Regions from separate parts of the Homo sapiens genome. Here all the other regions are linked to region 3. Evidence: fine-mapped expression QTL. A gene starts in region 3. Each other region holds a variant in brackets. All regions are shown on one strand. Distances are between the middles of the regions.

Region 1 (2,761 bases), 720 kb after region 3:
TTTCACTAGTTGCCCAGGCTGGAGTGCAATGTCATGATCTCAGCTCACTGCAACCTCTGCCTCCCACATTCAAGCGATCTCCTGCCTCAGCCTCGAGAGTATCATGTTGACCAGGCTGGCCTTGAACTCCTGACCTCAGGTGATCCACCTGCCTCGGCCTCCCAAAGTGCTGGGATTACAGGCGTGAGCCACCACACCCAGCCTCCATTCAATTCTTTTTTGAATTTATGCCAATATGATTTGGATATAATTTTCATCCATTTTGTGTTAACACTTTCATCTATTGGTAGATTTTTCTGCTCTTCATAATTTATCATAATATCTTTGTATCAAGGCTTTTACACTTTTTCAAAAGCTTGTCATTGGAAGGGCTTGGTTTTCCTGGGTCAGGTATTTTGCTGATTGCTCCTATGGGTGTAAGGAAGAATTAGGGTAGCTTCATGGGCTCTGTAACTGTGGCTCTCCTCTGCTGCCATAGAGACAGACTGCTTCCTGCAAATATGTCTTCTCTCTGTAATTCTTCACTATACCTCCTCTGTTTCTCTGAACCAAACGAGATCCAGGAGAGCTTCTGCTGCTAATCGTATTCACCCAAGCTTCTACATTCATTTTTATAAAGAAGGAACATAACTTTCATCTCATGGCAAGCCCTCATCCCTAGGAAGTGTAGTTTTGCTGATGCTTTCTGAGATTTGCTATCACTGAGCCCACTCACCACTCCCATGTGGCTTCTGCCCTGTCTTAGCTGCTTCACACGTACTCTGAAGCCGATGAATTATATGTCTCTCCTGGCTTTGCTAAAAATGGAGTTTGTGGTTTGGTTTTGTATATTTGTTTTTCCATTATTCTTGATGCTCTGGTATAATTTCTAGAAGGAGAGGGTAAATGTGGCCTTAGGCAGCCATTTTTCTACCCCCACTATCTAACTGGATCCTCTTTAGTAACTCCTTGACATAATAAGCAAAGCAGCTATGACTGCTGTCCCATTTTCAAGATGAGAAGCCAGAAGTTCTGAGGTTCTTGGGGTGCTTCAGGGTGGCAGGAGCATCATCACTCAGGGTCTGTCTGGGTGACAGATCAACATGGGTCTCTTTTCTCCTTGCCTTCCATGCTAGGCTGGCTCTCAGGCAGGACAGCAGGGAGTTGAGGAGACTGAGGTCTGACTTCATCATTTTTTCCACTACAAAGTGCCAAGGCAGCTGGTTGGGAGCCGTGAGGCCACCTGTCCCCCGTCCTGGGAAAACCAAAGGATGAGAAGCTTGCTGGAGTCCCTCTCCTGTAGCACCCACCACCTCTGGCAGATAGCCTGGGAAGAGGGGCAAGACCACTCCAGAACATCCTCTCACAGGCTAAGACAAGGTCTAGGTGGAATTAGCCTGGGAACGCTGAACGAAAGGCCGCCTGGCCCAGCCATGTTTGCATCTGGGTAGCTGCCCCACCTCTGGGCTCTTAGCCAAGCACATTCCCTACATAATCCTGGCTCTCCTGGGGAAGGATGCTGG[A/C]GGATGGCTCCCCTGCAGCTGACATCCTTGCACTTTAGAGACCTTCAAATCTCCAAAGGCCCAGGCCTGTGCAAATTCTTAGAGACAGTCAGCAGCAAGGCCCAGATGGCAGAAAACAGGTCATTTCTTCCAACCCTCTGCCTCTGATTCAGACCTGCTTTCTCTTCATGTATAAAAAAGACCAAGTGAAGAGGTTTTCTGTCTTTCATTTCTTCAGTAAAATTCTTGATAAAGAGGCCTGCACAGTGTTGGCAAATAAATACTTGGTAATATGTGCTGAAAGAATTATGCTTCATCTCTTTTGTTGTTGTTGCTGTTGCTGCTGCTGCTGTGTTGTTGTTGTTGCTAAGACAGGGTCTCACTCCGTCGCCCAGGCTGGAGTGCAGTGGCACAATCTCGGCTCACTGCAACCTCTACCTCCCGGGTTCAAGCAATCCTCCCACCTCAGCCTCCTGAGTAGCTGGAATTACAGGCGCACGCCAGCATTCCTGGCTAATTTTTGTATTTTTAGTAGAGACGGGGTTTCACCACGTTGGCCAGGCTGGTCTTGAACTCCTGACCTCAAGTGATCCACCCATCTCAGCCTCCCAAAGTGCTGGGATTACAGGCGTGAGCCACTGAGCCCAGCCTTGCTTCATCTCTCTTTCTTTTCTTTTTTTTTTTTTTTTGAGACAGAGTTTCACTCTTTTGCCCAGGCTGAAGTGCAGTGGCGCGATCAACCCCCGCCCTTCTGGTTTCACATGATTTTCCGGCCTCAGCCTCCTGAGTAGCTGGGATTACAGGTGTCCCCTACTACACCCAGCTAATTTTTGTATTTTTTAGTAGAGACGGGGTTTCACCATGTTAACCAGGCTGGTCTCGAACTCCTGACCTCATGATCCTCCTGCCTCAGCCTCCCAAAGTGTTGGGATTACAGGCGTGAGCCACTGCAGCCGGCCTAGCATCATCTCTTTTATTAAGTGCCTACTGCATGCACTAGACACAAGATCTTCTTGAATTCGTCCAACCACCATGGGAGGGGGGCCTTGTCGTCATCATCCTCTTGTACAGATGTACCAAGGCTCCAAGAGTAGAAAGCAGCCTATTCTAATTTAACTGGTACAAAGAACATTCAACCAAAAGGATTCTAAAAAGTTCAGAGATAAAGTATACATTAGTCAATTCTTGTTGCTTAAGAAGATCTCAAAATCTCCATGACTTGTAACAACACGTACATTTTTCTTCTTCGGACCTCTGCAGGTCAGCTAGGGGTTCTCTAC
Region 2 (2,761 bases), 59 kb before region 3:
CGGTGTTCCAGGTGGCTGAAGTTTCCGGATAACTGAGGATAACCTCTGGAATCAAGGAATGGAAAAAGCGTGGCCAGTGGTTGACTCTAACCCACCAAGGGGCTCTGTTAGGCCAGCACTTTTGTATTTTAACAGCTCTATCAAAATATAATTCACCTACCATAAAATTCGCGCTGTAAAAATGTACAATTCAATGGTTTTAAGTACATTCACAGAGTTGTGCAACCATCACCACAATCAATTTTAGAACATTTTCACCACCTCCCCAAAACGCCCCGTATCCCATGCCTACTCCCCATATGCCCTCATCCCAGCCTCCCCAAACCACCAATCTACTTGCTGTTTCTACAGATCTGCCACTTCTGGGCATTTCCTAGGAATGGAATCGTGCCCTATGTGGCCTTTTGTGTCTGGCTTCTTTCACTCAGCACCACGTTTTCGAGGTTCATTCACACTGTAGCATGAGTTTGTCGTTCATTATTTTTATTGCCAACTAATATCCCATTGTATGGACCCACCACATGGGGTTCACCCATTCATCCAGTGATGGCCATTGGAGCTGTTTTCACTGTGCAGCTGTAATGAATTGTGCTGCTGTGAACATTTGTGTGTAAGTTTTTGCGCAGACATATACTTCTGTATCTCTTGGGTATATACCTAGAAGTGGAATGTCTGGGTCATGTGGTAACTCAATCTACACTTTTGGGGAACTGCTGGACTGTTTTCCAAATCGGCTGTACCTCTTTACAATCCCGCCAGCAAGATATGAGAGTTCTAGCTGCTCACACCCCCACCAACATTTGCTAGTGTCTGTGTTTTTGATCATTTGCCATCCCAGAAGGTGCAAGGTGGCAGGCCAATGCTTTGCCGTCATTAGTGGCAAACGTTTAAAAACTGGGACAGTTTCTTATTTTTTTATTTTTATTTTTTTGAGACTCAGTCTCTCTCTGTTGTCCAGGCAGGAGTGCAGTGGCATGATCTCAGCTCACTGCAACCTCTGCCTCCTGGATTCAAGGGATTCCCCTGCCTCAGCCTCCCGAATAGCTGGGATCACAGGCCACCACACCTGGCTAATTTTTTTTTTTTTTTTTGTATTTTTAGTAGAGACAGGGTTTCACCGTGTTGGCTAGGCTGGTCTTGAACTCCTGACCGCAGGTGATCTGCCCGCCTTAGCCTCCGAAAGTGCTGGCAGGTGTGAGCCACTGCGCCTGGCCTAAAAATTGGGAGAGTTTCTATCAAAATCTGGATCTCTGGCTTCTCTTGAGGAAGATGGCTTTTTGGCATGACTGGGATGCGTTCCCCGTGGAGGCTGAGTCGCAGCTACCCTCCAGGCCGCCACAGTCCTCACCCAGCCAACCCTTGTTGAAGGGACTTCAGGGCTCCTTTGACACTGAGGTCTGTAATATGTGTTTGAGCCCAGATGAGGTCCACAAAGATGAAGAACTTTCATCACTTGGCCTTTCTGGAATCGACTTTCCCTCAGGCCGACTGGGGGTTGAACCACGAATACATTTTC[C/A]TACATAGTATATCCCACATTGACACAGGGTACCGTCTAAGGGATCCCTTATCCAAAATGCTTAGGACCAGAAGTCTTTTGGATTTTTATATTTTCCAAATTTTGGAATATTTGCATATACACAATGAGATATCTTAGGGATGGGACCCAAATCTGAACATGACCTTTACTTATGTTTCATACAAACCTTATACACACAGCCTGAATGCAATTGTACATAATTTTTAATAATTTTGTGCATGAAACAAATTTTGTGTGCATCGCACCAACAGAAAGAAAGGCGTCCCACACCTATCTCAGTTACCCACGTGGACAATCTGTGGTTGTTTGGCATCACCCTTATTCCTGACTCTGAATTTATATGCTATCAATAAGCAATCATTGTCTCACACTTACTCACACATAAGTACTCCATGGTAAAAAGTATGACATAGCATTAATACAGTGGGAAAATAAGGAGTTCAGGGCGACCAAGCAGAACAGCGATATCAGCAGATAGGGGGCTCAGCCGTGAAACAACAGCGACAACAGAAAACCGCGGGCTTTCACTTACGGCATCAGGTCCGCACTCAGAAAGTTTCAGATTTGGGAGCATTTCGGATTTCAGATTTGCGAATTAGAGATGCTCAACCTGTCTTTTCACAGTGATCCTGGAAGGGATTCATTGTCCCTGTCTCCAGATGAGAAAATTGAGGCTTCCTGAGGAGACAGCACGTGGCCCGTCCTGGGTCACATGCTGGTGAGGGTCTGGGCTGGGATTCCAGGCAGCTGGTCTGACCTCCCCGCCCTGTGGTTTTGGTTTTTGGTTTTTTGCAGAGACAGAGTCTTGCTGTGTTGCTCAGGCTGGTCTTGAACTCCTGACCTCAAGCGACACCCCCATGTTTGCCTCCCAAAGTGCTGGGATTACAGTGTGACCCACTGCACCTGGCAGTCCTGTGCCTTCTGTGACATCACATGGTCTGTGAGGTCCCTGGGTCTTTCTCACATCCTCACACTGCGGTGGGCAGCCCGAGATGCAGGTCTCTTTCTTAAAGAATTGTGTTTGAGCAAAAAAGCCCACAGAAGTCACCATCTTTCCACCTCAGGATCTCATACAGTTCTGATAATTATAGGTACAGGGAAGTCTCAATTTCAAATGTTCAAGTCCTAAATGGATTGATTGTGTTCACTGGACTACAAGTTCCAGGGGGGAGGGGACCTTACCTGTTTGTTCACTCCCATGTCCCTCGTAAGAAGAACCTTCCA
Region 3 (2,761 bases):
CACCGATGTTTATCTCCTCCATCCTCTCCTCCACCATAGTGAGGGCAGAGACCTTGTTCACTGCTGGGTCCCCTGGAGCCTGGCATACAGTAGGTGCTCAAGCAGTGGTGGTGGAATGAAGGGAAGAACATCAAAGTGCTGCCCCACCCCTGCCCACCACCGGCCCCCAGCCCAAAATCAGGGAGTGGGAACCAGGAGGCCCCACTCCCGCCAGCAGCAGGCGCCCCCTCTGAGCCCGAGCCTGTCTGGTTCCCAGGCCCATAAAAACCACCGCCCTCACCTTGCCCTGGGGCGGCAAAGGGTGAAGGAGGAAGCTGTGGGGTTCAGAGATTGAACTGTCATGGATTCAGAGGCCTGGGCCAATGAAAGTCAGTGTTCACAGAGTGCCTTCTGCGTGTCCAGGTGCAGTTGAGACACCCCACACTCACAGCCCTCACTGCAGTTCTGCAAGATCAGGACCACCACGATCACCCTTCACAGGTGAGGAAACTGACGCACGGTAGGGTGCAGCCACGTGCTCCAGGCTGTGCAGCCTGAGAAAGGTGAAGTCAGCATTGGAACCCAGCTCCGCCCGACACCGCAGCCAGCATTGCTCTCATCCATGGCAGTGCACGGAGACCATGTCGGTGCCAGCTATGTGCCAGGTGCTGGTTCAGAGCACAGGTCCTGGAGCCAGACTGCTCAGTGCGTTAGGCAGGTGACTCAGCCCCTCTGTGCCTCAGTTTCTCCAGCTGTGAAACAGTCCACATGGCACCTCCCTTGTCGGCTGCTGAGGAGACGAAAGGAAATTATTTCCAGTCAAACAGAGTGCTCTTGTTGCATGCCCTTGGGAGAATTCATTCCCGCTCTGAGCCTCAGTTTCCCCATCTATCATATGGGGATTAAACTACGCCACTGTGTTGCATCGCTGCGAGACTAACGTGACGTATTTGCACAGTGCCTCCCGCACAGTGGACGTTTACTCAGAGCTCACTGTTCATTCACTCCAGTCCTGCAGGCCTCACTGTCCCCATCTGTAATCCCAGAAGGCAGCCCTGATCACCCAAGACGGCTGCTAAGTCCCTAGTGCAAAGGTCGAGGGGTCCCAGGGCAGCCCTGACAACTGGGGATATCCTGGGGGTGGGGAGGACAGCTGAGTGGCCGGGATCAGGAAGCTGCAGGGGGCCCAGGTGACTCACCCGCTGGCGGGGCTTGGGGGCTGGGCTGCGGCCCCCACGCACCCCTCTGGGCCCTGCCTTGTGCCCAAAAGTGCTGTGTCATGCTCCGTCATGTGGCTCCGGGTCATTAATACCCGAGTTCTGGGAAGCTTGGGCCGAGTTCCCGGAAGGGGTCAGCCAGTTCAGTAAACAGATTGGCTGGTTCGTCGTCACAGCTGAGCCGGGCGGGCCTGCAGCTCAAGAGGCAGGAGATGGAGGCTGGTGGCCAAGGGGACACAGGAACTGCCCCCGGCCCCATTCGGGGCTGGCACCTCCCAGGGCAGCCTGGCCCAGGCTCTGCAGATGAAAGGAGAAACCAAGGCCCAGAGAGGGCAAGGCAGTTGCCAGAGATCACACAGCAGGTCCGGGGCGCGGACCTAGAATTCTGGTCTTATCATCCAGTGCTCTCAGCATCACTCTGACTGATGGGCAGGGGGGGACAAATCACCTCAAATTGTAACCTAAGCCCCCCAAGCCCCCAAATCCTAACCTGGACCCTAAGGCCAGTGTGTTGGATGAAGGGAGAAATAAATGGAAGGCAACTTGGGAAGGAAGCAACTTTGAGGGGTTACTGGGCTGTCCCCTGTGGTCGATCCTATAATCATAGTAACTGCTTCTAGTGTTTCTTGAGCATCTATTATGTACAGGGCATTACCATAAGTGCCTTCCATAAATCCACCCATTTAATATTCAGCCACCTTTATACGAATAAACACAGGCATCACGTTTAAAGCATCCACTGAGTGCCAGGCACTGAGCTGGGTGATTGACATACACCACCCGGGATCCTCTGCGGACCTTGCCAGGGAGGCATCGCCGTCACCCCTGTTCATCAGATGAGGAAACAGATGCCCAGGAGGGCGAGCAGCTGAGGTGTATGGTGGGAGAACAGCAGGCTCCAGAGTCGACTAGACCCAGGGATTCAAATCTTTACTTTTACCCTTCCTGCTGTATGGCCTCAGGCAAGTGACTCCACCTCTCAGAGCCTCAGTTTACCCATCTGGTAAATGGGGATGATTATGGTACTGGAAACACTGGAGCCAGACTTGGTGGGAGCTCGTGAGTGTCATGATAGGGCAGTGGCTGGAGTGCAGACTTTTGGGTTGAATCTTGCTGTGCCCCTTCTTGGCTGTGTAACCTCGGGCATGCCGCTTAGCCTCTCTGGGACTCAGTGTCCTCTGTAAAATGGACATAGCACCTCCCTCATGCGGCAGGTGGGAAGAATGAATGAGCAGAAATCCCCGCAGCCTTCTGTGCGAGGCCAGGTATTCTGCAGCCACTGAACGCAGGTGACTTGTTCTTATATTTCACCTATGATGGCTCCACTGGGACTGGGGTGAGGGGAAGGACACTAGACCATGGGCAGAAGGACAAGGCACCCACATTCTTTGCTGCCCTTTTGCACCCACAAACAATCTGGAAAGGGAAGCTCAGCCTTGCCTGCCTCCTTGAGGGTCGGGGCTGAGGCTTGGCGTGAATGGTTGCCATGGCATCCTCCCCACCTCCCCACCAGCCACTCTGCCTTGCTATGGACTCCACGTTCCTCCCCTACTTAAAACCCTCTA

Evidence for each region. PIP is the estimated chance that this variant, and not a neighbour inherited with it, causes the effect. A credible set is the group of variants that fine-mapping cannot tell apart.
Region 1: its variant is the best candidate, but not a certain one, in a credible set for the expression of LINC01270 in caudate (GTEx, PIP 0.50).
Region 2: its variant is the best candidate, but not a certain one, in a credible set for the expression of LINC01270 in whole blood (INTERVAL, PIP 0.59).

What each region holds. Positions count from the first base shown.
Region 1 is chr20:49,574,410-49,577,170 of GRCh38, reverse strand. No RefSeq gene overlaps it. Among named protein-coding and RNA genes, the nearest start is that of PTGIS, 7.7 kb to the right of the region's middle. The variant A/C (reference allele first, on the strand shown) is at 1,503.
Region 2 is chr20:50,350,319-50,353,079 of GRCh38, reverse strand. LOC105372657 (a long non-coding RNA gene) reads right to left here and starts at 2,382. Exons shown (of 3, transcript XR_936837.3): 1 at 2,070-2,382. RefSeq lists an enhancer at 2,576-2,625. The variant C/A (reference allele first, on the strand shown) is at 1,517.
Region 3 is chr20:50,291,248-50,294,008 of GRCh38, reverse strand. LINC01270 (long intergenic non-protein coding RNA 1270) reads right to left here and starts at 1,289. Exons shown (of 5, transcript NR_034124.1): 1 at 1,179-1,289. RefSeq lists an enhancer at 1,000-1,736.